3 separate regions of the Homo sapiens genome follow, and all the other regions are linked to region 3. Evidence: fine-mapped expression QTL. A gene starts in region 3. Each other region holds a variant in brackets. All regions are shown on one strand. Distances are between the middles of the regions. Region 1 has its middle 74 kb from the start of C14orf180. Region 2 holds the start of C14orf180 (chromosome 14 open reading frame 180). Region 3 holds the start of TMEM179 (transmembrane protein 179).

The links. PIP is the estimated chance that this variant, and not a neighbour inherited with it, causes the effect.
Region 1: its variant is the best candidate, but not a certain one, in a credible set for the expression of TMEM179 in cerebellar hemisphere (GTEx, PIP 0.85).
Region 2: its variant is the best candidate, but not a certain one, in a credible set for the expression of TMEM179 in stomach (GTEx, PIP 0.68).

Annotation. Positions count from the first base shown.
Region 1 is chr14:104,500,345-104,510,886 of GRCh38, forward strand. No RefSeq gene overlaps it. Among named protein-coding and RNA genes, the nearest start is that of C14orf180, 74 kb to the right of the region's middle. The variant A/C (reference allele first, on the strand shown) is at 5,911.
Region 2 is chr14:104,569,389-104,579,930 of GRCh38, forward strand. C14orf180 (chromosome 14 open reading frame 180) reads left to right here and starts at 10,376. Exons shown (of 5, transcript NM_001008404.3): 1 at 10,376-10,542. RefSeq lists a silencer at 2,050-2,250. The variant G/A (reference allele first, on the strand shown) is at 5,263.
Region 3 is chr14:104,599,737-104,610,278 of GRCh38, forward strand. It overlaps TMEM179 (transmembrane protein 179), which reads right to left and starts at 5,036. Exons shown (of 4, transcript NM_001286389.2): 1 at 4,701-5,036. The coding sequence starts at 5,005.

The sequences.
Region 1 (10,542 bases), 99 kb before region 3:
GCTGCCCTCTGTGGTCCCGAGAGCCAGTGCCTGGCACGGCCGCCCGCTTCAGACTGTGGCTGTGGGCAAGTGTGTACTCTCCAGGAAGAAGGGGCCTGTTGCCTCACTGTTGATCATCCTTAAAAAAGAAACTAGAGACACCCCGGGTGCCTCTCTGCGGCCCCATAAATCTGGAGAGGAGGGAGCTGCACCGAGCGAGCTTAGGCTTTTGAATTTTAAATGGCCAATTTGGTCAATGAATCAATTTCACTGGGCTGAGGCAGCGTGGAGATGAAAGCGGTTTTAAGACCTATTGAAGGCGGTGAGAGCCTCTTTGTCCATGCTTTTCTCAGGCTGCCGCCCTCTAATATTTCATCTATATTCATTTTTATGGCTTTCCAAATTATAGATGTCAGCTAAAAAAACTGAAAAAAAGAGAGGGTGAAGAAAGGAGGGGGAAATTCACTGCTGTTGAATAGAAAGGCGAAGTTATCCCTCCCAAAGCCAGCCAGTGTGCTGGGACGTGACCCAGAACTCACAGCCGGTCCTTCCATATCTGGGCCTCATTCCTGCATCTGGTCTGTGACCCAAGGCTGAGCCTTTGCTGCCCATGGGGCAAAGGATGAGGCAGACAGTTCTCCCTCCAGTGGGGAGCTCATGTTCTAGTGGGAGAAGGAGAGAGACCTCCTAAAAGTGAGCAGAACAAAGACCCTGGTACTCAGGGCAACACAGAGTGGGTGAGGCAGGGCTGTGGAGGAGGGAGTTGAGAGCAGGGTAGGAATGACCTGCCCTTGTGCAAGCATTTTCTTTCCAATTTCCACCATGCTCAAACTGTAACCTGAGGTTATGATGCCCATTCCTGGGAATTCATGTTCTACTGATCTGGAATAATTCTGACCTAACTGGCTAAAAATTAATGTGTACATTATCTTTGATAAAGGGCTTGCTCTGCAATTTGTAGTATAAAGGGATCACAAGGTAAATACTTTAAACCAGGGCTCAGCAAACTTTTTCTGCAATAGGCTGGCTAGTAAATATTTCAGCCTTGGTGCACCATGCAATCTGTTGCAACTACTAAACTCTGATGTTGTTACGTGAAAGCCGTCATAGACAGCAATACGGTTTGGCTGTGTCCCCACCCACATCTCAAATGTTAGCTCCCATAATTCTCACATGTTGTGGAAGGGACCTGGTGGGAGGCCATTGAACCATGAGGGCAGGTCTATCCAGTGCTGGTCTCATGATAGTGAGTAAGTCTCACAAGATATGATGGTTTTACAAATGGGAGCTCCCCTGCACATGCTTTCTCTCTTGTCTTCTGCCATGTAAGACAGAACTTTGCTTCTCCTTCACCTTCCCCCATTATTGTGAGGCCTCCCTAGCCATGTGGAACTGTGAGTCCATTAAACCTCTTTTTCTTTATAAATTACCCAGTTTCAGGTATGTCTTTATTAGTAGCATGAAAATGGACTAATACAGACAGTACGTAAACAAGTGAGTGTGGCTGCATTCCAGTAAAACTTTATTTATAAAAATGGGCAACAAGCTGGATTTGGCCCATAGGCCACAGTTTACCAACCCCTGCTTTTAAATACCAAAGTGAATTCACTGGTTTTTCTGCAGTGTACTGTCCCATCCAGTGAACTTTTCACTTCAGAGATTGGCACAATTTGCCACTTCTAGAAATTCCACTTGGAATTTCTGTGTCCCCTATTTCTCTCCTCGCTCTGTTCATGTTTTCCTTTAAGTCCTTGAGTATATGGAACATATTTATAACAAGTGTTTTAACATCCTGGTTTGCCTTTTCCATCACCTCTGTCAGTTCTGGGCCTATCTCTATTATTAATAACTAATTTTTTCCTGTCGATAGGCCCTACTTTCCTACTTGTTTGTCTAGTGATTTTTGATTGGATGCTGGACATTGTGTTGAATACTGTACATTGTTGAGTTCTGAATTCACTTACATGCCTTTAAAGAGTGTTGGGCTCCATTCTGGCAGGCAGTTAAGTCACCTGGAGAGAAGTTTGATGCTTTTGAGGGTGAGTCTAGAGTCACCTTTCCTCTTGGGTGAGTTAAGCCCCACTACTAAAGCAAAACTCTTCTGAGTCTCTAGTGAATGCCCATGTCTTCAATAACTTCTCTCCATTCTGGCTGGTGGAAACTTAGATGGTTCTAAGCCATTCACCTTGCAGCTCTCTGATAATTGTTATTTCTTCAGCATTGCCCTTGAAGTTTCACGCCTTGCGTGGGACAATTGACATTCAGGCACAGACCTATGGGAACCCCTATGCAGAATTCTGGCACTCTTTTTCTGCCTATTTCCCTCTTCTCTGGTATTCTGCCAGCAAATTCTAGCCATCTCAGCCTCCCAAAATTCTGATCTCTATCTCCTCAATCCAATGAGACCACCAGGCTCTGTGTGGATCCCTCCTCTCATAAGAAGACAAAGAGCTGTCAGCCTTAAGGAAGGACGGAGAACTGAAAAAATGTCCAGCCATCCTAAAGGAATCTCCAAATCAGTACCAAGGAAGCAGGTCCACCACACCTTGACTAAGGCCTTCCTTCCCCATCACAGCCCATTACTCCATAATCCAGTCCTCAGCATAGCAGCCCTCCTGGACATTGTCTCCACACAGAAAGTCCAGGCCTCAGAGGGGTCACTTTATTTGTTTCCCTCTGAATGGGTGTCTCAGTTCTGCACTTGCTGTGGTTTGAATGTTTTCCCCCCAACCTCATATTGAAATTGGATTCCCAGGGTTGGAGGTGGGGCCTAATGGAAGGTGGCTGGGTGGTGGAGGTGGACCCCTCATGCATAGATCATGCCCTCCCTCAGGGAGGAGCGAGCTCTTGCTGTTAGTTCTCATGAGAGGGGCTTGTTGAAAAGGGCCTGGCACCTCCCCCATCTTGCTTCTTCTCTTGCCATGTGGTCTCTGCACACACCAGCTTCCCTTCACCTTCCCCTGTGAGTGGGGAAGGTGGCACAGCCTGAGGTCCTCACCAGAAGTTGAGCAGATGCTGGCACCATGCTTCTGTCCAGCCTGCAGAACCATGAGGCAATAAAGCTCTTTTTCTTATAAATTACCGAGCAGTAGGTATTCCTTTATAGCAACAAAAATGGACTAAGACAGCGCTCACTCTCCAATGTCTGAGAACAGTCGTTTCATACTTTTTTGCCCAGTTTTCTAGTTGCTTAACTCAGAAGAGTGAGTCTGGAAGCTGTAGTAGGAGACTCTGCCCATGGATCTTAAATAATATAAAAGTACTCATTTCTATCTAACCCACTTTACCACTTTAATATAACTGTGGTGAGTTGGCAGCATCACAGACTTTAGGTTGGACGGAGCTTAGAAACCACGTGGTGCTAGCCTTTCACATTGCAGACAGAGAAAGGGAAGCCCAGGGAGTGGTGGGGCATGGCCGTTTAGCAGCTGGTGGCAAGCAGGCTGATACAAGACTTGTCTATCCCTGCACCACCCTCAGCTACTGCCCACCCATGTCCTCCTGCAGCCTGGGCACCCAGGTAACAGCTCTGAACTCCGTGTTTACAACCCCCATGCCGACACACATGCACACTGCTGCATAAGCATCAATTTCCTACCAAGTTGGTCCATGGGCCAGCGGGCTGCACCTAGAGGAGATCTGTCCACACCAGCCCGCCTGAAAACAACCGAGCCACAGTGCTGGGCCCAGAACCCAGTACAGCCCCCTTTCCTCTCAGGCCATCCCAGCCTACCAGAGGAGTCTAGTAATGCCAGCCCTCCAAAGCAAGGTTCCTCAGCAAACCACACCCCGCCCACACCACAGAGCCCTCAGGCCACAGCATAACACACATAACACAGCTTCTCATTCATTTAGGGGCTAAATGTCAGCAACTGCAGGCACAGGTCTCTGCTGAGGCCAAGGTATTAGACCTGCTGGGGAGAGGGAGGAGCAGTTATCAGCCTGCCCTGAGCTGGAGGTGGGTGTGCCTCAGACCTCGTGCCAGCCTGGGTCCTGCCACCCTCTAGGTGTCACCGGCCCCCTGGGCCCCCACACAGAGAGTGAGACTCATTCAGCAGGAAGGGCTGAGAAAGCTGGGAGGGGTGGCCGGCAGCTGGCACAGCACAGGCTTCTCCATGCACGCATTACCTCCCAGGGTTGCCTGACTGACTGTTGAGAGTCAGGCTTCATCCTGGTGCTGCAGGTGCCCTGGAGACATGAGCTGCTAAGGTGAGGCTGCCACAGAGGAGGGCGGCTCCCCATCCCTTTGCTTGGGACTGAGGGGTTTCCCAGGGCATGGGACTTTGAATGCCAATGCCGGGAAGGCCCCAGGCAGACTGGATGAGTTGGTCACGCCACCCTAGTGTAATAGCTGATAGGCTGACATCTCAAAGATTCACATCCTGGTGGCTGGGGCCTGTGAATGTGTGACTTCACATGGCCCCTGCCGGTGTGATTAAGTCAAGGACTGGAGCTAGGGAGTGGCTCTTGGATGGGGTGGACCCTGCATGCAATCACGGGAATCCTTTTAAGAGGAAGCAGGGGCAGATTTGGCAACGCAGAGGAGGAGACCGCGCAGACAGAGGCAGAGATGGAGGGGTGCAGCCACACCAGGGCCACCTGGAGCCCCCGAAGCCTGGAGAGACAGGGACGAGATTCTCCCTTTGAGCCTCCAGAGGGAACCAGCCTTGCTGACATCTAGATTTTAAAGCCATGAGACTTGTTCTGAATTCCTGGCCTCTGGAAATGTGAGATAATAAAGTAACGTTTTCTAATAAGGCCAGACCTCCAAAGCAAGGCTCCTCAGCAAACCACACGCCACCCACACCACACAGCCCCTCAGTCTGCGGATTCACAACACAACCCAGGAGATAGGACCCGGGAGACGCCGGCCCCCGCCTGCAGCCAGGCTGAGCTTGACGGCCACAATAGGGGCAGCCATAGCAGAGGGCTGCCTCAGAAGTTCTGCTTCACCACCGGGGAAAGTGCCAGGAGGCCTGGCACGTCCCGGGATAGTGAAGACGGGTAGCCACTGGGCCACCTGGAAGGTGACTGCGGCACCTGCACCCCCCGCATGGTTGCTCCCCACCCCCAGAGCTGCTGCAGGCACACCTGGCGCCTGCTCCAGCCAGCCTTGGCATCTTCCTCTCTGTTCCTCCCTCCGGGCAGGGCAACTGGGCAGGCTGGACACCCAGCAGGGGAGCTGTCCACATCAAGAGCTCCCCTTCTACTACCATTTCTGGGCCACGTCCTCCGCCCTCAAAACAGCAAACCCGTCTCCAGTGCCAGACTCGGGGCTGCACATGACCAGGGCAGGAGTAACTGAACTCGCAGAGGACAAAAAGAAGAAAGAGGAAGGGAATCCCTTCAGCGCCACAGCTGAGCTGTGTTTGCTGTAGTTTCTCCAATTTCTTTGTGAAAATGTAATCGCGGTCCCGGAGCACGTGGGACCCTCTGCACACTGACAGTGGGAGGGAGACTCACTGCAGGGGCTGCCGAGAGCCCCCGCCTGGGGTCCTTGACCTGCTGGGCTGGGGGGCTGGGGAGAGTCTGTGGGTGCAGAGAGCTGAGTCTCTGGGGCTGGGGCCCCTCCTCCTCCATGTCTTTCAGACAAGGTGTCAGGGCCCCACCTGGGACCACACTGACCTATCATAGCCAAGGTGACCTTGGCTGGCTGGCCCCTGAGTGAGGCTGGGGAAGGAGGCAGGAAGCAACAGGCCTGGATTTGGGATGACTGCCCCGCTGGGACCTCCTAGAAGGTGTCACCCTGAGGGGCCAAGAGGGAGGTGAGCCTCAGAGCTGAGGTCCACCTGCAGCCTTTGCCTGACCTTTGGTTCTGGGGGCAGCTTGGGGACCCCCACCTGCCACTGTCAGCCTTTCCACCTGCAGGGTCAGGCAACTTAAAACCTGAGGACATCACAAAGCAGGAAATGAGTTCCTAAATAGAAACCC[A/C]CTGGGGTCTCCCACCTACTACCACCCCTCCTCCTCTCCTGCCTCCCTGCTCCTCCTGGCATGTTGGCTCCCCCAGCAACGCCGCCCTCCTCTCAGACACACACTCCCTACCTGCCTGCACCCTTACCCCACCCAGCCTCCTCTGGCCTCCCTGGCCCCCAAGTTCAGCCTCCTCGTTCCCTGTCCCTGCTCTGTCCCACCCAAGGAGCAGTGTGCAGCCCCTCCCCTGCACCCCTCCCTGGCGACCTCACCCCACATCTTGGCGCCAGGCACCTCCAGACACTCTCCCCACTTGTCTGCCATTAAGGAGACCTCTTGTCCTAGAAGCTTCCAGCAAGGCAACCACCACATTGCAGACCCCCTTCCTCCTGCCCCCTGCCCCAGGCCCAGGTTTGGAGCAGCTGCCCATCGCAGAGCAGCCACCGTGGGGTGTCAGCTGGCCGGGGTCACCTTCTCAGTGTTTGGCCATTTCCTCACTGGCAGGACCCTGAAGCTTCATCCAAAGCAAGAGGAGAAGACAGGTAAGGACTGCAAGCCACACTGGGCGCTTGGATCTGGAAGAGAAGGGCAGAGACTTGGCTGGCTGAGGGTGAACCTCTCCTCCACCGTGGGCAGCCCAGGCCCTGCCTGGAGAACAAGCAGAGGGGGAGATTCTCCCTCAGGAGAGAGCGGAGGGGGAGATTGCCCCCAGGTTGCCATGGGGCTGGGATAGAAGATTCTGTGACCAGGAAATGGCCCAGCCTGCTGCTCCACCTGGCTGCAGCCACCCCTTTCTCCAAGACCAGACTTATGGGTCTGTCTCCCTGCTGCCTCCCTCTGCCGTTCTGCAGCTCTGGGGAGCTCTGTAACTGGGGGGCCCAATTCTGCCATTCTGCAGCTCTGCAACTGGGGGGCCTGGGTCGGTGGGGAGGTGGAAGTTGCCCCTGCAGAGAGTGTGTTCTCTTTTCGGGGAGACCTGGGCCTCCTGGTGCTGGAGGGGCTCCCAGCTGTGAGTAGGCAGGCCCCATGTAGCAAGGAGACAGCTCGCCATGTGGACTCCCTTGGGTTTGGTGATTGGTCACTGCCCACTGGCGTGCACTCAGTGCGTTCCTGGGCCCACCCAGGCTTCTTGATCTCTTGTGATGTTTGTAATCTGGCATTTGGGAGAGAGTGAGGTAAAGGCAATTTTGCAACTGCAATAAAACCAGCAAAGTGATCCTCTGATGGTTCTTAATGAGATCCGTCTATCTCCCCTGACTGAGCCGGCAGACTGCAACCCCATGTGTGAGGTCAAAATGAATGTCACATGGTCCCCCACAGAACCAGAGAAGCCATCACCATGGTGCCTGGCCTAATCTGCTCCAGCATCCGACAGGAGTGATCAGAAGATACTCACAGGAAATTGTTTTTCCTGCCTCGTAACCATAACAACAGATGAGAGCTGGTCTTGCTCAACTTTCCGAGTGAGCATCTTTGTCAACATGTAGCCAAACCCAGGACACAAAAGCAGAGACCAGGGCTGGCAAAAGGGCACTTTGGAGATATCAGGGTTTGGGGCTCCTGTGAGGTCTGGATTCTCCCCTCTCCTGCCCCACCCGACAGGGATGGCTTAGAACGTTCCTGAGTGTGGACTAGAAGGTGGGTGGAAGGACAATGGGCCCCCTGGAAGTGTGCATACCTGGCATCACAGTGAGCTGTGGCTGCTGCCTGGGCAGAAGCTGAGAGGCTGCCTTGCTGCCCAGAGTCCCCACAGGCCTGCAGGTGGGCACCAGTCCTTGCTTCCCAGATTACAGTCAAATGCTCTGCCCATATCATTCCCTAACTCTGACAGCACCAGGTCCAGATCTATCCCCTAAACTGCAACAGTATTGCTGAGAGAAATTAAAGAAGAGCTGAATGAATGGAGAAGTATACCAAGTTCATGGATGGGCAGACTCTCTATGGCTAGGATGTTGTTCAGCCACCCCAAAATGATCAGTAGACCGAATGTGATCTTCATAATAATTCCAATGAGCTTTTTGACGGAAATTGATTGATTGATTCTAAAATGCATTTGCAAGTGCAAAGACCTGGAAAAGAAACATGATCCTGGATAAAGAGCACCGTTGGACTAATACGATCTGATTTCAGGATGCTGCAAAGCCCAGTAATCAGGGCAGTGAGATACTGGCGAAGAAATAGACACTTAGATAATGGAAGAAAATGTAGAGACAAGAACTAGACCCATAAATACATTTCCCATCGATTTTTAGCAAAGGCTGCAAGGAAATTCAATAAAGAAAGAAAGTCTCTTTGACAAATGATGTTGGAGCAACTGGATACATTTATGGGGGAAATAAACCCCAACCCCTTCCTCACACCATACATGAAAATTAATTTAAGATAAACCACAGATCTAAATCTAAAATATGGACCAGGAAATACCTAGAACACACAGGAGAAAATCTGCAACATTGAGGTAAACAAAGACTCTTTAGAGAGGACACAAAAGGCTCTGGCCAATAAAGAAAAAACAACAAGCAGAAATTAATCAACATTTAAAATTTCAGGTCATCAAGACATTGTCAAAAAACAAAAAGGTATTTCATAAAATTAGGGAAAAAAATATATGTGTGTGTATATATATGTGTATATATACACACACATATATTTTCTCTAACTCTATTAATATATATGTATATATATATGCACACACATATACACATATATATACACACTCACACACACATACATCTTATATCCAGAATATATTGAGAGTTCTTACAAATCAACAATAAAAAGACAATCCACTTATCCAAAATATATAAAGAGTTCTTACAAATCAATAATAAAAAATCCAATTAAAAGATGCTTCATAAAAGAAGACACATAAATGCTGGATAAGCACATGAAAAGATGTGTAACATCATTAATCATCAGGAAATAGATACGAAAATCTCCAGGAAGTAGTTTTTTGCCCATCGGGTTGACAATACTAAATGTCAGTGTGGATATGCAGAAGCCGGAACTCGCCTATACTGCAGGTGAGGGTACAAAACGGTGCTGCCACTTAGAAAACTGCTTGGCAATCTCTTACATAATTAAACCTCCACCTGTCCTATGGCCCTCCTAGCTATTTATCCAAAGGAAATAGAAACATTTGTACCCCAAAAATACTTGCACAAGAATGTTTATAGCAACTGTATTTATAATAGTCAAAAACTGGAAACTACCCAAAGGTACACTGGCAGGAAAAAGCATAAATAGATTTTATATTTATAAAATGGAATACCCTTCAAAGATAAAATGGATAAACTACACAGATAAAGCTCAAAACAACTTGGTTGGGTGTTGGTTATGTGTGTGTATTTGTCAAAACTCATCAGGTTGTACCCTTAAGATCTGCACATTTCACTTTATGTAAAATTTATTTCATAAAAAGCAATTTCCCCAAAACAATATGATAATAGCACAAAAGGGCTGCCCTCTCCCCTCAGCCACGGCCAAGTGTGATGTTGCACTCAGACCCCACCCGAGCGTCCTGGCTTTGAGTCTCCTTCAGGATGCCCAGGTGTACACTTTGCTCGGAGCTCCGGAGCAGCAGACAGGGTTGCAGGGGTGGGGGGCTGCTGCCCTCCAGTGGTGCATGGCCCTAGCAGGTCCCCCCTCACCACACTACAAGCTCCCCACTGGAACCCTGGAGCCCGCATGCCTCCCAGAGGGCTCGTGCAGGGACCCCCAGGCAGCAGATACGGGCACCCCACGAGTGTGGCCACAGGAGGCTCCGTGAAGGGCAGCAGCCTGCAGCCATCACTCTGCCAGTCTCCCCGAGACACCCCAGTGCGCCCTGCAGTAGAGCTGGCTGGCCGGGCTGGGATCTGCAGACAGGTGGCAGCTCCACCTGGAAGGATAGAAAATGCAGTTGGGATTGCCACTTCTAGGTCTTGCCTGACTTCTGCCCTTTCCCAAACACAGGGCCTTGTGGTGCCTTCAGCTGGTCCCTCCTCCTGGAGTCCCCTCCCACCCATCCCAGCATCACCTGCAGCACTCTCCCGCCAAGGTCAGGCTCAGGCAGGGCCTCCCACCCCCATCCAGGAGGCTTGGCCAGGCCCATCCTCTAGGGAGCTGGGGACCTGGCCTTCCAAGAGCCACCAAGACATGTCTCAGAGGTAGATGGGGGCTGGGCAGTGAGCCGGAGCCTGCCCCCTCCCCTCCTGCCCCAGGGCCAGGGGCAGCAGCATGAAGCCTCCTGGTCTCCCTTCCATTCCCTGGCCAGGATGGAGACGCCCTCAGGGCTGGTGCAGGCCTCCAGCCCCCATGCCTAGTGGCCTGGGAGACAGCCAGCCCCACCAGATGAGGATGTGAGCCACACAGGCAATTTTCTCTAGAAATAAATGGAGAGAAATTGCTCTAACAGGCAAACGGCCTCTGTTTCAAAGCTAATTTCCACATAATAGAACCAAACTACTTCCCTTTCCTCTCCTCTGTCTCTTCTGCATAATTTGACAAATTGCAAAGCTATTTGATTCGGGGGCTCAAACACAAGCACTGACTCCAATAGTCAGGGACAGATGGGGAGAGGGGAGAAGGCAAAGCTCCCCAGAAAGCGCCCGCTGACTCCAGGGCTCTGAGAGGACATTTCTGGGACTGGCAGGTCAGAGTGCAGGGGTGGGG
Region 2 (10,542 bases), 30 kb before region 3:
CTTCCAAACAGGATCATAGCGAGAACGCCGCATAAAAGCTCTAAATAAACCCCAAAAAGGAAAATGGGACTGTTTTACCACTGAATCAATTCACCTCTAATTTTAATGCTCTGAAAAGTATTTTCTCTTAATGACTCCATTATTTTATCATATGGTGAGCAATAAACTCCCTCCCCACATTTGCCAGACAGCCTCAGCCTCTCCGGTGTCTGCCAGGCAGGGAATCCTTTATAGGCGGCTCTGCACACACACAGCACTTGGCTTTCGTTTAGTGGTGATTTTATAGAAGATTCCCCCATTTCGTGTAATATAAAGCCTAGAACTTAATTAGCCTCCGTCAGCTCCTCGGGCTGCTATGGAGTGGGTGTGTTCATGCACCCGCAGACCACACACCATGACAAAGTCGCCGACCGTCTCAAGGCAGCATCCCTGTGGCTGGCATGGGCAGCATGCCCCAAACATGAAGCACTCAGGACCCCAGAGGGCTCCTGGCCTCCCACCTGGCAAGTGGGTGCAGGTTATTAATCCCCAGCTCCCTGATGGCTCTCCCACCGGGACACACACATCCCTCACAAGCAAACGTGATTCCCAGCAGGGAGCTGGCGGTCTCGGGAATGACCTCCATGTGGGCTCCTGGGGAAGCCCAGGCGACTGTGCAAACCCTGCTGGCGAGGGTGCCGCCCTCCACGGTTTTCCAGGCCCCAGGGTGGGCACATGTGCCGGCTCACGGTGGGTCTGCTCCAACTCCAGTGGGAAGAAGAGATGCCGAGGATGCAGCAGCACCATACGTGGGAATGGGGACAGCTGCGGGGGGCTGGGAGCACAAGTGAGGGACAGAGCCAGGGCAGGTGAGGCCAGACGACGGACATGGTGAGCAGGGTCGGACACAGTTCCTCCTACAAGAGCCTGCTTGTGCCCTTTGATCTCCAACATCTCTCCTGGGTGCTCCACATCGAGGCGCCCCCACGGCACATCTGACCCCTCCTCCAGTAAACCTAAATTAGTTCCTTATTGTGCAACCTGGACAACTGTACATGGCCAACATTCAGGGGTCCCAACAAACTGCCTTGTAAATTGGAGGCCAGAGCCTGGCTTCCCTGTGTGGTGCCAGGCAAGGCACTGCAGCTTACACATGACACACACACGGCACACATGCAGCACACACGCAGCACACACGCAGCACACACATGCCCCTGCTGCTCCCGCCTGACGCCGGCCACTTACTCACACGCCTTCTCCCCCAGACAGAAGAGCAAAGGAGGTGGGAGGGTAAGGGGGAGACTTGAGTAACCTCACAGTACCCTAGATGCTAGGAGAACAGGTACCCGTGGGCCAGGCGCGTGTGCACACCTGCCTGGGCATGACACAGCTATGGGGTGTGTACGCAGGGCTCACATGTGGGGCCCAGAAACCTCCCTGCGTACTCAGATACCTCGTTCAATATCTGTAGCATGAGGGGCACTCCTGCAGGGGTCTGGAGCAATTCTTGGCCTAAGTGGCTATTTGCAGACTCCCCTCTCCCCACAGGCCCGGAGGAGTCGCAGAGTGGCTTTGTAACAGTGCGTTCTCCCTGCGTTTACCCCAGTGGGTTCTACAGGCTGGGCCTTGTCAAAGTGACGGGCAGGCGCTGGGCACTGGTGACAAAGGCAGTGGCAGCACTTGGCCACACTCAGCCTCTGGGGGCCCCGGACGTGCATACATCGCGGTCCTCCCCTTATGAGCGAGGAGACACCATGGCTGCTTGCACCTCGCGTGCCGGGGAACTGGGAGAGTGGGGCTCACGTGTGCATCTGCCCACCTCTGCTGAAGCCTGGGGCCACACAAAGCCTCTTGGGGTCAGAGCTTGCTGGGGCCCCGTGGGGGACGTGAGACAGAGAGAGAAGGTGTGTGTGTGCACACGTGTGAGACTCGGTGTGCCTGGTTGTGCACGTGACTGCGTGCATATGAAACACAGACAGGCGTCGGTCCAGCGGAATTTCTGTGGCACACTTGAGCTGCGTGTAGCCCCCTGCTTCTGACTGTACAAAGACCTCACGCTCTCATCCGAGACCGGAAAGCTGTGGACGGGGTTGGTGGCTCCTCTCGGAGCTAAGCTCCACCTCCCACTCCTCAGTCTGACCCTGGCCTCCCTCCCCAGCCCTCCCCAGCCCTCCCTCTCTCGGTTTTTTTTTTTTTTTCCTTATCCCCACACTCCTCTCCTGCAGCCCTGGCTTCAGGCCCCTCCCCAGCAGAGGCTGCAGCAGCCCCGGTGCAGTGGTGGGATGGGCCTGGCCGGACTTTCCAGTGCCCACTGTCCTATGCCCCCTGCCTGGCACCCCAGCCTGGCCCCTCGTGCCCACCCAGTGCTGGGTAGAGAGGCCCCGTCGTGAGCCCATCACTGCTGCCGCCAGAGGCTACTCAGGCCCAGCTCCTCAGAGGGTTTTTCTCGGGCCCTCTTTTAGTGACCTTCTCTGAACTTCTTGTGGCTGGCTTCATCGTGGGATTGCAGAAAGACCCGAGAGCCCCAGGGAAGGTGGCATTAAATCGCAAGCAATGGCACTTCTGGCACATCCAATCGATTTTGTCGTTCGTAAGAAATGGAAACAGGATGTGGCAAGGAAAAGGCAGTTTCAGGAACAAGGCTTCTCCCCTCGGGCTCTGGAAAGGGCAGGGAAAGGCTCTGTTGGCCCATGCAGCGGCCCCTGGAGTCCAGGCCCAAGATCCCAACCCCCGGCCACAGGACACGGTCAGCAGGTCCCTGCCTGGCTGCCCCACCTCTGGGAGCCCTCCTGCCACCCCGGCTGGCCTCCTGCGGGCTCTGAGCAAGGTCAGGCCCTGGGAACGAGGGAGGGGCCGCTCCTGAGTCCCCGAAGCCCTGGGCTGAGTGGGCCCCACCAAGCCTCCTTGGCCCTGCCCAGCTTCCTCCACTCAGAGCTGCTGGTGCATGTGCCCCAGAACGGGGCAAGGGGGAGGCAGGCACTGCCCCGCAGAGGAGTCTCACCCATCCCTTCCCTCTGTGTCCCAAGACAGGGCCTTGGCTGCTGCCCAGGGTGTCTTGCAGCAGCCCCTCCCCCAGCCAGCCTGTCCCTCAATGCTCTCCAGCAGGCACAGGACCAGAGAGCCACAAGCTGTGTGCCCACCCTGCACACCCACCCACAGCCCTCCCCCCATACCTCCTGGTCCTCGAGCCTATGCTTCCCACAGGCTCCTACCTGGTCATCCAGGCCAGCTGCCATGGCCCAGGAGCCTGCATCCATCCTTCCCTCAGCCACAGTGACACCCAAGGCGGTGCTCACAGCTCATCCCTGCCCTCAGGGCCACCCGAGGGGTCACCAGTGCCACAGCCAGTCATGTTATGTTGCACTGACTTCCCCAGCCAAATGCCTGGGGACCGGGGCTAGAGTTTTTCCTCCATTGTCCATTAATCATGGCTACCATTGTTGCATGGGTTCCTGGAGGTCTGGACCACCTGCCATGTGACGTACTAAGCATGACGTCACGAATGTAGCTGATCAGCATCATTTTCCGCAGACCAGGAGTGTCCCAGAGCACTGGATTGCAAGAGTAGCAAGAAAGTGCCAGTGGCTGGAGCACTGCTGTCTCTCACAGGCAGCTGGGTGGGCCCCTCTCTACTGAGGTGGTTGAGAAGGACACACTTGCTAGACACACCGCACACACCCAGGGCCAGAGGATGTGGTGACTCGGTTCAGTCGAGGTATCGCATCCGGCGGCGCATTTTCCATGTGGGCTGACTCTGCGTTGGGTTGGGTTCATCCATCACCATCGGCCATGATGCTGCTGGTTTTTGTGGACCATATGGGTGAACAGAGTGGGAACAGTGGGGACAGTGGGACTGACCATCCCTGTATCTTTTGAGTCTTTGGGGATGGTCCTAATTTCTGCAGATGCTCAGGATGTGTGGAATGACTCTCTTGGCCAGGGTCTTAGAAGCTTCCACTTGTTCGTTTGGGTTTTTTTCCTGCCAAAATGGCTCATAATCATTAGGTCAAGGAACCAATGGGCAGGCTCTGCCAACTGCAGAGTACAGGCAGCCCCTTCCCTTAGGCACGAGAGGCTGAGGGTCCCAGGGTCACTGCAGGGCGGGCTTGCCTCCAGGTCTCCGGGAGCCCTTACTCTACCCACAGCGGGGTTCTGGGTCCCCTGATATCACTGCCAGCTCAGAGCCCGTACCCACAGCTCTCAAAAGATCAGGAGAGTCTCCTGCCCAGCACATAGTTTCTGTGGGCCCTGGACACTGACTTCTGCCCTTTCAGGCCAGCTGCTCCTGACACGGTGGAAAGATCAGGAGAAGCTGCCCTCCCCAGTGGGCCGGAGGGCTCCAGGCGGCAACAGGGAGGGCAGCACCAGTGACGGGCACACCTGGGCTGAGGGAACTTTGGGCACCCAGGCTCTGGGCCACTCAGCCACTGCCAGGTGGGCACCCGCGTGAACCAGAACTGTGTGCCTGCCCGGCCAGCCCAACCTTGCCGCTTTCACAAGGAGGCACACAGTAGCCCCTCAGAACCTGCCACGGCCCTGCAAGGAGAGGATTCCCCTGGGGCAGGAGGTAGTAGCTCTCGGCCAGGCACTGACTGCCCAAGGTGGCAGGCCCAGGACAGGGTGTGGGTGGGGCCCTCCCTCCCCCGGTTCTGGTGCCAAGCTCTTCCCAGTGTCCTGTGCCTGTGCCCCATGTCCCAGCAGCTGTGTGCAGGGGAGTCATGACCAAGGGCGGCACCCAGTCCCCTGGATCTGAGCCCACTCCGTAAGCTGCCGCCTCACAGCCCGGCAAGGAGCTTCCCCCTACAGAGCCCCTGTCCTTATCTGCCAATGAGGCCAGGCCTGGGGCTCAGGAGGCGGTGGGGAGGGAAGAGGAGCTAAGCCCTGTGAGGAGCTAAGCCGTTGCACACAAGTATGCATTCTGCCCATCTAGCGCTTGGAGAGCATGGTTAATGGAAAGACCCAACTCCGTAGAACACGGAGCTTTCTTCTGAGCCAATATGAGTGACCGCGGCCCAGGAAAAAGTGCACACACCCAGGGAGCCCTGAGTGGGGGGTCCTGAGGCAGCCAGACACCAGCTCTGCTTCCCACCCACCTTAGTGTGACGGAATTGCAGGCAGTCATAGTTCAAGGAGCTTCTACATCGGTTCAGCCCAGAAAGGCAGGGTGTCTTGAAGCAGGGGGCTGACAGGTCGTCAGCGGGGCCAGAGATTATTTCATTTGCAATTAGTTAAAGAAGTAAAGCTTTGTCTATAAATGTGCAGTCATCAGAAAGGAATGTTTTC[G/A]GTGAAGATTAAGAAGTCTTTTAACCGATACACCAGGTCACAGTGGCGTGTGGGGTGCATGACTTGACCCTGGGCTGGCGGCCTTCGGTCCTGTTTATAATTCGAGTCTTAGGGTCACAGTCCTCTGATCACTAGGTTAACGTCACTACTGGTCAGCCCTGCCTGAACTCCCGCAGGGAAGGGGGAGAGCGAGGCACGTCTGCCCTCCTGTCCCATCATGACTGGGAACTCAGTTGTTCCGGTTTCTCTGGAGTCCCTTTGGCCAAGAGGAGCCTGTTCAGTCGGTTGGGGCCTTAGGGTTTTATTTTTATTTTACAGCACGTAGCACTTTTGCACACGGACAGCGTGGCCCTCACAGTTCGGCGCACATGTCCACAGATGTGTGGCTTGCCTGCGCCACAGAGAATGCACGCTTCTGGTGTGAGAATGAGGCTGTGTGTGACGTGTGAATGCTCGGCCCCGGCCGGCCGCAGCCAGGTCCCTGCGGTGGGTCCTCAGGCCCGGAGACCAGGGATGGCGCCCACAGTGGGAACCTGGGCTGACCGGCTGCCCCCGGGGCCCACGCCTGCAGTCGCCCCACTGAAGCCCAGACAGACCCCCACACGGCCTCGCCTCAGAGCCCAGAACCTTCAGCAGGTCAGGCGGGGTGGTGGAAGGATCTCCCGGCCCCTCCAGCCAGCCCCTAAGATGCTGCTGGAAAAACAGCTGTGGCAGGCAGCTCGGGGGGCCCCGGCTCGGTTATGGCTTATGTACAGCCCCGACAGCCAACTGGCTTTCAGGGAGGGACCAACTTCATAGATAAAATTTGTCATCGTATCGATGGCTCCTGTAGAGAAAAAAGGACTTTTACAGCCTCTTGGAGGTCATGAATAATAGAGGAGGAGGAAAGGGGCCGCTTTGGTTAGTGTTCCGCGGGGCCCAGAGGCCCCCATTATCTCAGCTGATGGGAGCTGGGGGGGCCCCAGCAGCCTATGGTTCTCACTCGTGGAAACCAGTGTGGTCATCACCCAGGGCCCCCACCACACTCAGGGCTGGGGGCAGTGCCCATGCGTCCTGTATTCTTAATAAGGGCTCTGACTTGGCGACGGGGTGACCATACATGGCCCTGTCAAAGGGCCCTGCCTCAGTCTGAGAATGACAAGCTGCAGGCTCCATGGTAGGGGCCTGGACCTCCCACTCCGGGCCGTGACCTGGGGCAGGACTCTAGCTGTATCTGCAAGCCGGAAGAGCAGCATCTCTCCAGGCAGCCGTATGTCAGGGGCCAGTGAGCAGACACAGGGGCCAGAGCGTCACAGGTCACCCCCATATGCCCAGAGTCTGCTCCCCCGTCCTCCCACCTCCCTCCCCACCCGTGGTCTATGGGGCCCTGAAGAGTCCCCAAAGGCAAAAATCCTCCTTTGCTTGCCTCCAGTGATGGGGAACTCACTACCTTACTGTCGGCTGTTCCTCCCATGGACAGCTCTGCCTGGTGGGAAGTCCCCCCACCAGCCCCTGTGCAGAGCAGCCTGTGCCTGTGGAGCCCCAGCCCAGGTTCCGGCTCTCACCCAGAGCATGCGTCAGCCCCTCTAACCCCAAACCCACACTCCTCCCTCATTTCCCTCATTTCCTCTCCTCTTCTCCTGGACCCCACCCTCAGGCTTCACTCCCACCAACCCCCAGGGTGCCTGGGCCAAGCCCACCTGTGACCACCACGTGGCAAGTCCTGTGAGGACTTCACTCCTTGTCCCTCCTGACCTAGCACTGGCTCTGAGTGTGCCAGTGGCAAAGACCTGCTCATGCGGCCTCCACCGGCCCTGGACTCACCCACCACCGCCACCCCTGCCTGCCCTCTCCCGTAGTCCTCTCCAGGGCCTTCTCACCGTGGTCATGGTTTATGGGGCCTCTCATGACCCCATCAGCCACCGTCCCCACCCAGCTGGAGACCCTCAACCAAGCCCTCTCAGGGGGTTTCCTGTGGTCATGAAGCAGCTGACGACCCACTGCAGAGACGAGAGCTACAAAGATGCATTCCCACTGTAGCAGAGGGAGCTGGGATCAGGACAGCCTCAGCTGCATTTTCACTGCCCCAGAGGGAGCTGGGCTCAGGACGGCCTTAGCTGGGCGTTCCCACGACAGCAGAGGGAGCTGGGCTCAAGACAGCCTCAGCTGGGCGTTCCCCCTACGGCAGAGGGAGCTGGGATCAGGACAGCCTCAGCCCGGCGTTCCTCCTGCTACAGAGGGAGCTGGGCTCAGGACAGCCTCAGCTGGGTGTTCCCACTACAGCAGAGAGAGCTGGGCTCAGGACAGCCTCAGCTGGGTGTTTTCACTGCCACAGAGGGAGCTGGGCTCAGGACAGCCTCAGCTGGGCATTCCCACTGCAGCAGAGAGAGCTGGGCTCAGGACAGCCTCAGCTGGGCGTTTTCACTACCACAGAGGGAGCTGGGCTCAGGACAGCCTCAGCTGACAGGGGTGCAGCCCTGAGCCCCGGAGACGCCTGGAGAACCTTTGGACCCATTTCCACCACAAGCCCTGGTGCTGCAGTCGGCCAGCCTGCACGAATTTCCCCCCGGGCTGTATGCCAGACAGGGGAAGGGCCAGCCTCCAGGCCTCTGCGCAAGAGGGCCACGGCCAACTCCCACCCCCTGGGCCAACGCTGGCCTCTCTTGTGCCTGGGGTCCTTCTGCTTCAACCAGCTGTGGACCCCACCCCCATCTCCCCCACCCACCGGCCCTTTCTTCTCTGGCCCAGGTCAGCCTAGGGCCTCCACACCCTCCAGCCCCACCCCCGACCCTGCCTGGAGCCATGTATGAGGCCATGCTGAGGCCCAGGGCTCTCCGCACTCCAGCCAGACCATGGTCCAGGGAGAGCTGGGAGTCTAGGCCAGCACCACGTGGCCATGACCAGAGTAGCCACAATCTCCAGCCCCTGCAGCCTCCACTCCCACGTGCCGCCCTACTCCACCCCGGCCACCTTCCAGGACCACCCCAAGGAAACAGCCCAGCCCAGCCAGCTCGCTGGACTTTCCCAGCGCTCAGGAGTGCCCAGCCACTGGACATGCTCCGCCCTCCCGCTGAATGACAGCTGGCCTTAGTTGCTGTGTTCCCGGGGCACTGCTCAGGGTGGGTGCACCACAAAGATCTGGGGAGGGTGGGGCATCCGATCATTCCCAGCTCCCGGGGAGAGATGAGGGTGTGGCGGAGGTCACCTGGCTGAACAGTGACAGAGCTGGGCCCAAACCTGGGCACCACGTCATTGGCACCACTGCCCGTGGGCACATGTGCCCACCTGCCGGCTGCAGGCAGGCCTGACACAACTGGGCTCTTCCCTGGCACTGCCTGGCACAGGCACTGGGGACCCTCCGCGGACCCGGCAGCTCAGCACTCCCCTGGGCCAGCCTTATCTTGCCCTGCAGAGCCCAGGCTGGAGTGAGGCGCAATGGACGGAGGCGAGGAGGGTGCAGCCGAGCCCTATCAGATACGGCCGGAAATATGACCCCGCTGGGACCTGAGCCCTGAGCCGAGCCATCAGCTCACTAATAAATTACCCAGAGCGAATGTCCACAGGGTCAGCCCGCATCGCCTTTCCAGGGAGCACAGAGAGGGGGCGGCACCCAAGGTCTGTGGGCTGACCGTTCCCTCCCCTCTGTCAATGAGAAGGGTCAGGAAGGAGTTGTCCCGGAGCCCCCCGACCTCGGGCAGTGCAGCCTGACCTCTGAAATCTGGGAGGAGCAGCTCCAGCCCTGGGAAGCCAAGGATAAGCGCCCAGATTGGGCACAGGCGGGAGAGGGTCTTGTCTGGCTACAGGACCTCACTCTTCCCAGGAAGCCAGACTGCCAGCAGGACCACCCAGCCTTCCTCAGTGCTCTCCCTGGAACAAGCGTCAGCGAGCCAAGGCCCTCCTGCCAATCTGGCCCACCCCGTTTGTGTAGACACAGAGCGCACTGTGTGCCATATGGCCCTGTAAGAGAAAAGTTTGCTCCCCCATGCCCTGTACTGAAGACGGCAGTGAGGGGAGGGCCGGTCTGCTGAACCCCATCCCAGTGGCTGCGTTGCTCATGCTCTGACGGTGGGTTCCAGGACTCTGTGTCCATGCAGCCCCACGGCTGGCCCTGAGCAGTCACCCTCTGTGCACACTGTCCCCCAGCCTGGCACACCCTGGGCTCCCAGGGGTCCTGTAGCTTTACCCAAGGGAGATGCACCCCCATTCCTAATGGAGAAACACGGGTCTCTCCACACCTCCTCCAGCAGTCCCCTGAAACAGGTCAAAGCCCCACAAACCAGGCAGGGGTCTGCCCACATGTGGTGGTGCCCTGCGCCAGTGATGCCCTCACCAGCCTCTTTCAGACCTGCCTTTACATGCACCAGCAGACGGGGGGGCTGGCGAGGACGGGCCACCAAGCCTGAGCCAGGCTACCACCTCCGGGCTGTGTGACTCTGGACAGGGTGCCTCAACTCTCTGAGCTGCACTTTCACCTACAAATGAGGGGCAGACTCAGCAGCGCCAGGCAGGGCAGTTGGACGCCCACCCAGGACAGACCCTGAGAAAGGCTGATCCCTCACCCCTGCCATCGCTCACTGACCCATACATTGCCCCTTCCTGCCAGGGCAATATCGAGGGTCGGCCAGTGTGCCCCAAAACGGCAGCTTGGGACCCATTCTTTGCCTCTCCCTCTGGCAACCCCAGGTCAGGACTCACAGGGGCACAGGGGCCTGGGGCAGGGCGGGCACTCTCGCCACCACGGAGGCCCCATGCTGGGTCAGGGTCTTATTGGAGGCTGGACTCTGTGATCACCTCACCTCCCGCAGCCCCACAGTGCCCTCCCTCTCCCACTCTGCCCCGAATTCCAATCCATAGGTTTTTCCAAGAGCTGCACAGCTCTGGAATTGACCTGGGAGGGGGCACATTTGGGCCGGGAGGGGTAGGAACAGCAGCAAACTCTGGTCTTATCTGAAATCATGGTCTGTTGTCCACCGGGGGCCTGGGAAACAGCCACCCCCTTCTGCTCCGGGGCCAGCGGCCTGTCCTCGGGTTCACTGCTATTTCTGCCAAAGGGGAGAGGTAATTATAGCCTGGCCGCTGCCAGCTGGCCCAGCTTTGCGATCCAGCAGAGAGGGCTGGAGACGGGACGAAGGCCACAACAGACCCGGCCCTGCCAGCGGGCGGTGGCGCCTCCAGATCAGAGCCCTCGGGAAGGAGGCCTGGGCGGGCCTGGCCCGTTCACCTGTGTGCCCTGCAGTTCTGCCCGAGGCTCAACTCTCAAGGGCCTGGGAGGGGTGCTGCCGGCCAAGAGGGTCCAGGACC
Region 3 (10,542 bases):
GCCACTGCCATGGTCCACACCTTTCAGCCTCCAGAGAGAGAATGGAGAAGGAGACGCACTCTGAAGAGCAGGGTCTTTCAGACCCTGAAAGACCCTGGTGCCTGCAAATACCTGGCCCAGTGCACCTGAGATACGGCAGAGGCTCTGGGCCCAGGCGACCCACTGTCCCCTTCCCACCACTGAGCATGGGCCACAACACAACCTCCAACAGACAGAAAAGCCAATTATCTGGAGACTTCAAACATCCAGCCTCACCCCTATGAAATGGCCCGATTTTGGAGTCTTCTCCCATGACCAGATCGAGGAGTTCCCCATGAGATAGGGAAGGGACCCCAGGCTGGGGCCGCTGCCAGCTGACAGCCTCGGTCTGTTCCTCTCATTCCTTTCTGGTCGGTTTCCAGGGATCCTGCCCAGGCTGTCCAGGTCGTTGAAGAATTGGATGTGTCCAGAGCATCCCCGGATCCAGCTCCCCAGAGGTCACAGGGCCACCCAGCCCCTCCCTCACCAAGGCCAGGCCAGGACAGTGGTCAGGAACAGGAGCCCGGCACATGCAGGGTTAACCCTGTCTCTCTTCACTGCCGCTCAGGGTGCCCTGCCAGGATGTGCCATCTCCATGGTGACCGCTGTCCTGGAAAGCCCAGCAATGTGAAGGCTCAGCGCCGGCACGGGCAGGCAGATGAGTTTAACGCAGCATCCCTCCGGCCCGCCAACCACAAACTGCTGCCAGCCCACGTGCTCAATCCTCCCTCAGCACAGCTGCCCCAGGCCCACGGCTGCCTCAGCAAACCCTTCTGCCCCGAAATGGCAAGCCTCTCTGAAGCACAGGTGCCATTCCATTCATTCATCCATTCATTCATTCATTCATTCATTCATTTACTCATTCATTCATTCATTCATTCATTCACTCATTCACTCAGCAGCCAATAATGGAGCATCAAGATGACACTCCTCTGCAAAAAGCTACCCCCAGACTAATTTTCACACTTCTGGGCACGAGCTCTCAGGGCCCAGACTCTGCATGAAAGACACCCCCATAGGAAGAGGAAGCTGGCACCTGAGACATGGCCTCTGCTCCACAAGCTCTGGACGTGCCATGTGCCCCTCAAACAGACCTCACACAGGCCTTGCCCTCACACTGGCAGGAGGGCAGCCGGGTGGCCCCTGGAGGTGGAGTCCCCTTTAGAGGGTTAGAGCATGTGCTGTCCTAAACAGGCCCAGACCTCTAGCAGCCAGAGTCTGATGGGGTCAGTGGGCTCCTCCCTGGGCTGGACGTCCAGTGGCCGTCGATGGCCCTGAGAGCCCTTGTCCACCACATGAGCTCCCTGTAAAGGCCCGTCTCAGCTCCGTGGCTGGTCCTGAGTCCCCTTTACCTACCTGGCACTTGCTCACCTAGTCTATGCAGCTGGACCAACAATTGAGTTGGAATTGGCTGCTCTGTCGCTGGACCCTGCAGACCCCATCTTCCCAGGGGTCCAGAACTTCCTGACATGGCAAGTCTGAAGGGTGGACCTGTTGGCCAGATAACTGAGTCTGCACAGGTATCGGGGCCAGGTGAGTGACCACAAGGCAGCAGGCCTCAGGACCCAGGCATCTTTCTGTCAGTCATTCAACAAACATTATCTGGGGACTCCTACGCACCATCCCCTGTGCTCAGCCCTAAGGACACAGAGATGAATAAGGTGCATGTCTGCCTTGGCTTCACCCAGCTGTGGGTCCCCTAGGGTGGGGTCCCCTGGGGGGGGACCCATGGCCTGAGATGGCTCTTGAGAGCGTTAACCTTCGCCTACAACCAGAACTCAATGGAGTGCTGACACGTTTGACAGATGTCACCCCACAAGCCGTCTGCCAATGGACTGTGCAGTGCATGAGGTGGGGGACAGGTGGCCACATGACCACGTGAACTGAGCCACTAATTCCTGATGGTCAAGAAGGACACAGGCACCAGATGTCCCTGGAAAAGAGCAGGCTGGGCGGAGGTCAGTGGTGGGAGGATTGGTGAACCCCTGAACTGAAGCAAAGGAGCTGAACCTGAAATGCTCCGCCACAGGCCCCTTCCTGACAGCAGGAGCTGCCCGGACCTGACCTCCAGTGGGGTCAAGGCCATGGTGAGCCTCCACAATGTAGCCCCCCTCGACAACCCTAACCCTCACCCTAACCCCCACAGGCCTGAGCATACCAGGCCGTCTAAGGCTTCCTAAATCCCATATGGGCCGGTCAGCAGGGCTGCAGCAGAGGCCACACAGCTGGCCTGCATCCCAGCCGGCTCCACCCCTTGGGAGGATGGAACACCACAAAGAGTGCTGGGAAGGCCTGCAGACTCCCCAGGAATCTGTTTTCTGCCTTTGGAAGGAGATGGTGCTGGCAGTTTGCCACGGCTGACAGACAGTCACCTTCCGTGAGATGGCAAGAGGCAGAGCTGCTGTTACGGCATCCCTGGGCCTGCCGCCCAGTGTGTGCGAAATAGACCATACCCTGTGCGACCTGGACTCCTGTCTTGCAAGCTCTGGGGCTCTTTTCTCCCCTCTCCCTGTCCCCCAGCTTCTGGTGGAACCCCCTATAAAATCTCCCATCACTCTGACCACATAGCTGGGTCCTATCTAGAGAGCCACCCTCTGTCAGCCCCAGCTGGACCACAGGCACCCTGAGGGACACCCAGGAGGTGAAGAAGTGCGTGAGCGATGAACCAACTGTGGCCCCACCTGGCCTGCACCCTCCACCCTCAGCTTCCCAGACTAAAGGGACCTCAAGCGTTGGGAGGCTGACCCTACTCGCTGGCTGTCCCACTCCCTCTTCACACCTGTCTCATTCAGGGAGGCTTCCACCTGCCTGCCCTGCATGCACAGCATGGACTGGGCAACTCTTGGGTTTGGCAACATGGGTGCAGATGACGTCTCAAGCCTCTTCTTGGGACACCAGCCCTGGAGTGGGCTGAGGGAAGGAGGACGGCTGCAAATGGGCAGGACACCACCCTGCGCCCGGCCTGACCCCACCTTGAGCAGGGCTCCAGCCACACAATTTGGGCCCATGGCCCCACAGTACCTGGGTCCTCCCAGGCTGACAGCCAGCTTTCTACTGACCCCCATCCAGAACCTTAGTGTCGTGGGTTGAATGGTGTCCCCCGAAAGATATGCCCAAGTCCCACCCCTGGTACCCGTGACTGTGACTTTGTTTGGAAATAGCATCTTTGCAGGTGTAATTAAGCTCTGGATCTCAGGATATCTCCCTGAGTTTAGAGTGGGCCCTGAATCCAGTGACTGGTGTCCCTGTAAAAAGAGGGAGGACAGAGCAGAGCAAAGGCGCCCTGTGAGGACAGCGGCAGAGGGTGGTGGGACAAGTGGGTTTCAGTCCAGTTGGTGCAACTGTGCTGCAGCAGCCCCAGGGCGCTCCTACCCACAGGCGCTGGGATTCTCATTCCTCCTCCAGAGTTTGCAGCCCCACTCAGCATAGCCCTGGCTCCCTCCCTTCTCCCTGAAGCCCCTCTTCTTCCCCTCTCTGGCCCCTCTCTCAGCCAAAACCAAGCGGTGGGCTCACAGCGGGGGCAACAGGAGGGCTTCCCCACTCCTGCCGCCCACACCCCTCTGAGCCCTTCTCATCTCCCACCTGCGTGCAGGAAGTGAAAACCTACAACAAAGGATGGGGGTGAGGGCAGAGTTTGGGAGGAGCCTGGGTTTCATGAGTGCTCTCCCGGAACCTCTACAGGATCTCGGGCTGCTCCTGGGCACAGCAGGCCTCAGCCAGGGGAGTGGGAGGGCCCACAGAGGGCACCCACAGAGGGAGTGGGTGGGTTCACAGAGGGAGTGGGTGGGCTCACAGAGGGGGTGGGTGGGCTCACAGAGGGGGTGGGTGGGTTCACAGAGGGGGTGGGTGGATTCACAGAGGTGGTAGATGGGCTCACAGAGGGCACCCACAGAGGGAGAGGGTGGGTTCACAGAGGGAGTGGGTGGGCTCACAGAGGGAGTGGGAGGGTTCACAGAGAGCACCTGCAGAGGGAGTGGGTGGGCCCCCAGAGGGCCCCCAGGGTGCCACTGGCTAAGGGTGTCACCGCACCCCAGGTGAACCAGGTTGTATGGGCTCCAGTATCTAGCCGGAGCAGGAAAGAGAAAGAGGAAAATGCAGGCCAGGAGGAGGAAGGCGCTGAGCCCACAAGGCACAGCCCTCGCCCTGCAGTCTCTCTCCAGCTCCCCATCCAAGGCCTGAGCTCGAGGTGGGCCTGGGTGGCTCCCCTCCAGACAGCCATCTGCCGTCCCTTTCCCGGGGCGATGGTGCCGGGTGGGGCTCCCCAGTTCGCCTTGTCACTGGGACCTGGAGAGCTCAGTGCAAGCCCTAGACCGGGCTGGGAGTTGTCGCCGGTCCTGGCGAGTGTGGCCCGGCTGAGCCCGCCCAGGAAGGTCCAGGCCTGCTGGGTGATGACAGTGCAACATCTGCAACCCAAGGGAGCAGATGCCCGGAAGCGGGAGGTGATGCGCAGCTGGGGAGGGGAGGCACTGGCCTTGTACGCAGGACCGGTGGTCGTCATGGTCCCTGGATGTGTGTGTAGACAAAGGGCGGTCTGAGTGGAGGGGGTGAGGGCGGATTGTTGACATTTGCGGGCCTCGGAGCTGCCTGAGAGACGGAGGGACTCGCGCGCCTCCCCGGGGAGGTGGGTCTGGGGGCGCTGGGGGCATGGAAGGGGCGCCGCGCCGGGAGCGGCCCCCACTTACCCCTCGTGTCCCTTGCAGAGGAAGAAGAGCGTGCGCCAGGCGTGCGCGGCGGCCAGCAGCAGAGACAGGAGGCTGGCGAGCAGGCTGAAGCGGCAGGCGGCCGGCGGGCCCCACTCCTGCACCGTGAAGCGCTCGCGCTCCTGCACCGTGAGGTTGGCGCTCAGCCACATGCCCTCGGTGAAGAGCAGGCAGCGGCCGCGGAAGTCGTGGCCGTTCTCGGACAGCGGGACCACCACCACGAAGCTGAACAGGAAGGCCAAGAAGTAGCAGGCGCACTGAGCGAAAAGGAAATTGTTGAGCGCCATGGCCGGCCCGGGCGAGAGCGGCGGCGGGAAGGCCGCGGGAGGCTGCGCCGGGCGGGGAGGCCGCGGGAGGCTGCGCAGTGGCGGCGCCGGCAGGTCCCGCGCGCCCCTCCCGGGACGCGTGCGCATCGGCCGAGCGCGGGAAGCGCCTGCGGTCAGCACCGCGGACAGCTCCTGGTGCGCGCGGGCCAGGAGCCCGGGGTCCAGGGGCCAGAGAAGGGCGGCCTGCGGGAGATGCGGGAATTTTACCAGGTCGGCCTGGAGGGACCGACCCTGTGCCGCTAAAGACTTCGGGAGCCACCTGTACGGGCCTCACACAGGCCGACTCTGGGTCGTCAGTTCCTCATCAGCTCGAACGAAAGGAGACCAGGAGAGAGAGGGCGGGGCGGGGGGTGTTGGAGGACACCCCCAAGGTGCTCATAGTGAGGTGTAGGAGTGCGGTTTGCAGTCCAGGCTGAAGTGATTCCTTTGCGGGGGTCCCGAAATGCAATGTATGAGGGGAGGGGCCAGATCGTGGAGGAGTCGGGGTCCAAGGGACTGGGACAGAGGTCATCCTCGAAGAGATGGGGAGGGTGAGGCCAGGTGTGGGCAGGAGGGGGTGGACCGGGAGCTTCTGCAGCGCCAGCCCTCCGCGGGGACGTGTGTTACACTGCCTGACATGGGCAGGACCCTGGAGCTGCATTTGTAAGATAAATAATGGGTGTCCCGAGCGCCTCATTAAGACATCTTTGCTGAGATGGAAATCGCTGAGGCATTAATTAATAGAATTAATGCCTTTTCTAGTTGCCTTTAAGACTAAGTCACCTTTAGTCCAATTCCCAGAGTGAGGAAGCCTTAACATTGCTCCTCCTGGTTTAAAATTCCATCAGCATTTTTGTTGCAAGCATTAAAAAATATTTTTGTTTTATTGACTAAGTAATATATGCTCATTTCTTAAGTCAAGTAATAGAGATATGTATACAATAAAATAGAAAGCCTTCTCCTCATCCCCCTCCCCTACCCCATCACACTACCAGGGGTGACCACTTCAATAGCCTGGCATCTATTTTTCTAGACATTTTGCTAAGCACATAAGCACACACACAGAATTAACAAAAATGCTTCATACCATACATAGTTTTCTGAAGGCTGATTCTTTTATTCAACAAAATGTCAAGGAGATTATTCCCTGCCTACACATACACCTATTTTGTTCTTTTTAATAACTGCATAAGACTCCATTATAATGATGATTCCACAATCTGCATAACTATTCCTCTTAAGGTGGATGTTTTGTGTCTCCAGTTTTTGCTGTCTCAAATGCTGTCATGTGAACATTCTTGTACACATATGTTTGCGTTCTTGCACAGGCATTTTTATAAGAGAAATTCTTAGAAGAGGAATTGCTGGGTCATGGGGTATGCACATTTAAAATGTTGACAGAAATTGCCAAACCGGCTTTAAAAATGTTGTTCAGCCGGGCGCGGTGGCTCACGCCTGTAATCTCAGCACTTTGGGAGGGCGAGGCGGGTGGATCACGAGGTCAGGAGATCGAGACCATCCTGGCTAACATGGTGAAACCCCGTCTCTACTAAAAATACAAAAAAATCAGCCGGGTGTGGTGGCGGGTGCCTGTAGTCCCAGCTACTCGGGAGGGCGAGACATGAGAATCGCTTGAACCTGGGAGGCAGAGGTTGCAGTGAGCCGAGATCACGCCACTACACTCCAGCTTGGGCGACAGAGCGAGACTTGGTCTCAAAAAAAATAAAAATAAAAATAAAAAAATTAAAATGTTGTTCAAATTTACCCTCACATCTGGGTTGTAGACCCCTCCCCTCGCTGGCTGAGAAACAGCAGTTGTAGGCAAATCCTGCCAGTTTCCACAGAATGCGCTCATTGCTGTGTGAACTTGGACTTGCTTTGGCATCATGAGGCTGAGCATATCTTCTTACGCTTGCCACCATTTGCAACTTCTTCTCTTCTGTGGATTGCATTTCATTTTGCAGTCACTTTAAAGTCGGGCCTTGAAGGCCAGCCACGAGGTCAGCAACGGCCACTCTTCTCTTGGAGAATCCACTCAGGGTTTTTACCACTCTTGGAGTATCCCCAATTCTCCCCAAAGGGAGCTCACTCAGGAAATTCACCCCCTCCCCTAACTTGGGCAAGAGTGGAAGTTCCATCCACTCATTATCCAGCAGTTGGACCAATTTGAACACATCTGGGGGTGTTACACTTCCAGACTCTGGCCAACATGAAGGAGACCATGACAACTGACAGGGAACCGCCAGCACTGGAAACCGCAGACTAGGCTGGAAAGATGATTAAATATCTGCCATTTTCAAAGGTCAAAGGTGCGAGACTCTGGCATGTCTGTGATTAGTTCCACTTACCTTCAAAAATCAAAGACTTATCTTGTTTGTATTAGTCAGGGTTCTCCAGAGAAACAGAACCAATAAGATGGAGAAAGAGAGAAAGAGAGAGATTTATTTTAAAGAACTGGCTCATGTGATTTTGGAGACTGGTAAGTCTCGAATCTGCAGGGTGGGCCAGCAGGCTGGAGACCCAGGAAAAGTCAATGTTGTGGTTCAATGTCGTGGCTGCAGAACTCCCTCTTACTGGTGGGGGGAGGGGGATTGGGAGGTGGGGTCAGTCTTTGGTTCTATTCAGGCCTTCAACTGGTTGGATGAGGTCACTGCTATAGTTTGAATGTTTGTCTCTTCTGAAATTCATGTAGAAACTTAATCCCCAATGTGACAGTGGGGCCTTTAGTAGGTGATTTGGTCCTGTCCTTATGAATAGATGAATTCTTTTCATGGATTAGTGGTCTCATGGATTAATGGGTTGCCCCAGGACTGGGACTGATGGCTTTATAACAAGAGGAAGAGAGATGAGCCGGCACACTCAGCCTCCCCACCATGGATGCCCTGCACCACCTTGGGACTCTGCAGGGAGTTTCCACCAGCAAGAAGGCCCTCACCAGATGCAGCACCTCAACCTTGGACTTCCCAGCCTCGAGCACCATGAGAAATAAACGTCTTTCCTTTATAGATTACCCAGTCTCTAGTATTCAGTTTTAGCAACAGAAAACCGACTAAGACACTCATCCACATTATGGAGGATCTGCTTTACTCAAAGTTCACCATTTAAATGTTAACCTTGTCCAAAAATACCCCCACAGAAACATCCAGAATAATGTTTGACCACATACCTGGCACCTTGGCCCAGCCAAGTTGACACATAAAATTAACCATCTCTTTATTGAAGAAATTCCAATCTACGGAAAATGTGGAAAACTCCAAAATTCACTTTTAAAAGCCAACATTACATTAATACCAAAATCTTACCAAAATTGCGGGAGAAAGAAAGAAATAGGAAATTACATATACAAATATGGATGCAGAACACTTTCAAATAAAATATTGGCACACTGAACACAACCCAATGTATTAAGAAAGTAAGAAAACATGAATGGGTAGACTTTAGTCTACAAATGAGAGAATAGCTTTGCTTTAGGAAATCTATCAATGATATGCTACATCAACAAATAAAGGAGGCAAACTCACCTTTTCGTATCAAGGAATATCAAAATGCACTTCCTATCATTGAATATCCACTCCTGATAAAAAAAAAAAAAACCTCTATGTAAAATAAAACTACCTAAATGTGGTCAAGACTACCTTAAACCACATTATAAATCCGCACCCGTTCAAATCAGGAACAACACAGGAATGCTCACTGTTGCAACTATTATTGACCATTTTGGGGGCAATTCTACCTAATGAACCAAGACAAGAAGATAAAAGAAGCAGTATAACTATGGAAACAAAGAGGCAAAACTATCTTTATTGGAGGATAATATGATTCTATACCTAGAAATCTCAAGATACTCTATAAAAATATGATAATTTGCAAATTAATTTTGTTCTGGATCTAAAACCTGGCTTAGGTCCAGAAACTGGGCCGGGTGTCATGACGTCTCCTGTCAGGCTGCCCTTGGGATGGTTCCCCTTCATGCCCTATGATGGTGTCAAGTGCACCAGAGTGAGAGATGCCTCTGCCTTTCCTCCAGGGATGCCCAGTCCTGTTGTCCATCTCCTCCACTTTCTGTTGGTCAGGACACGCTGGCTCCTTCTTTGACTTTGCTGCTCGTTAGGACCTGAGCTCACCTTGCTCCCGACGATTAGCTGGCACCACCTGGTCTGTCTTATCTGGGGATCCCACCAGCCGCATTGTTCTCAGGGCACCCAGTCCTGTGACAGCAGCTCCAACCATCATCCCGCTGAGCTTCTCAGTGATTCTGCCCCCTCCCCAGTGCAACTTTCTTGCTCTGGTAAATGGAGACTCTTCTGCAGCCACCCTTTCTCCACCCAGGAATGCAACCTCGGTGGGTGCTGCAGCCTTTGTAGCACGGACACTCGAGCACGCCCCTGTCCCTGAGTCCTTGCCCCCTCTCCCACCATCTGTCCTGGCTGTTCTATTTTACAGGGTTGAGTATCCACTTTCCAAACTTCTTAGAGCCACTTAGACGAGTTTTCTGTCACTGCTGCAACAAAATGCCACAACGGCACAAATGGATTGTCAGACAGTTCTGGGAGGTGAGAACATCCCAGGGTCAGAAGTCTAAAATCAAGGCATCTGCAGGGCTTTGTTCTCTCTGGAGTCTTCAGGGGAGAATCTGTTTCCTCGCCTTTTCAGTTTCTAGAGGGTTCTGCGTTCCTTGGCTACTGGCCTCCTTGCTCCATCTTCAAAGCCAGTAACACCAGTCCAGCCCTTCTCATGCTCCACTCCTCTGGTCTCTGCAGCTAGAAGACTCTCTATGTTGACATTAGACCCATCTGGAAAATCCAGGATGCCCCGCAACCTGAGGTCCTCAACCTTAATCACATGCACGGAGTCTCTTTTTCCATAAAAGGTAACATACTCATGGGTTGCAGGAATTGGGATGTGGACATCTTTGGGGCATTATTCTGTCTGCTCCACCATCCTAGGAACAAGTTAACCCTGCCTCCCAGGGCTCTTGCCTGGTGTTAAACCTTTGTATTCCAGGACACCTCTACCTTTTGGATAAATTCTTTCTTACCCAACATTTATGTTCTACTCCCCTGCCCCAATCCAGCACACTGTGGTCCAGGCGCACACATATCCCTGCCGCCTGTTGGTACGTGGTCTTCAGATCCTGCAGAGCCATCGGGGCACGCTGGCCTCCCTCTCTCAGCAGAACTCATTCTTTGACGTTGGTCACCAGCAGGAGAGATGGAGTAGCCCCTCCTTAGAGGCCATGCATTCTCCTTGCAAAGCAAACCTGTGAATCATCTTCCAACAGGTGTTATGGGTTGACTGTGACCGCAGCAAAGACATGTTGAAGTCCAGACCCTCAGCAGGTTAGAATGTGGTCTTATTTGGAGATGGGGTCTTTACAGAGGTAATCAAGTTAAAAGAAGGTCATTAGGGTGGGCCCTCAGCCAATGTAATTGATGTCCTTGTAAAAAATTTGGTGATAGATATGCATAGAAGTAGAACACCATGAGAAGATGCAGGCAGAGATTGGGATGATGCTTCCA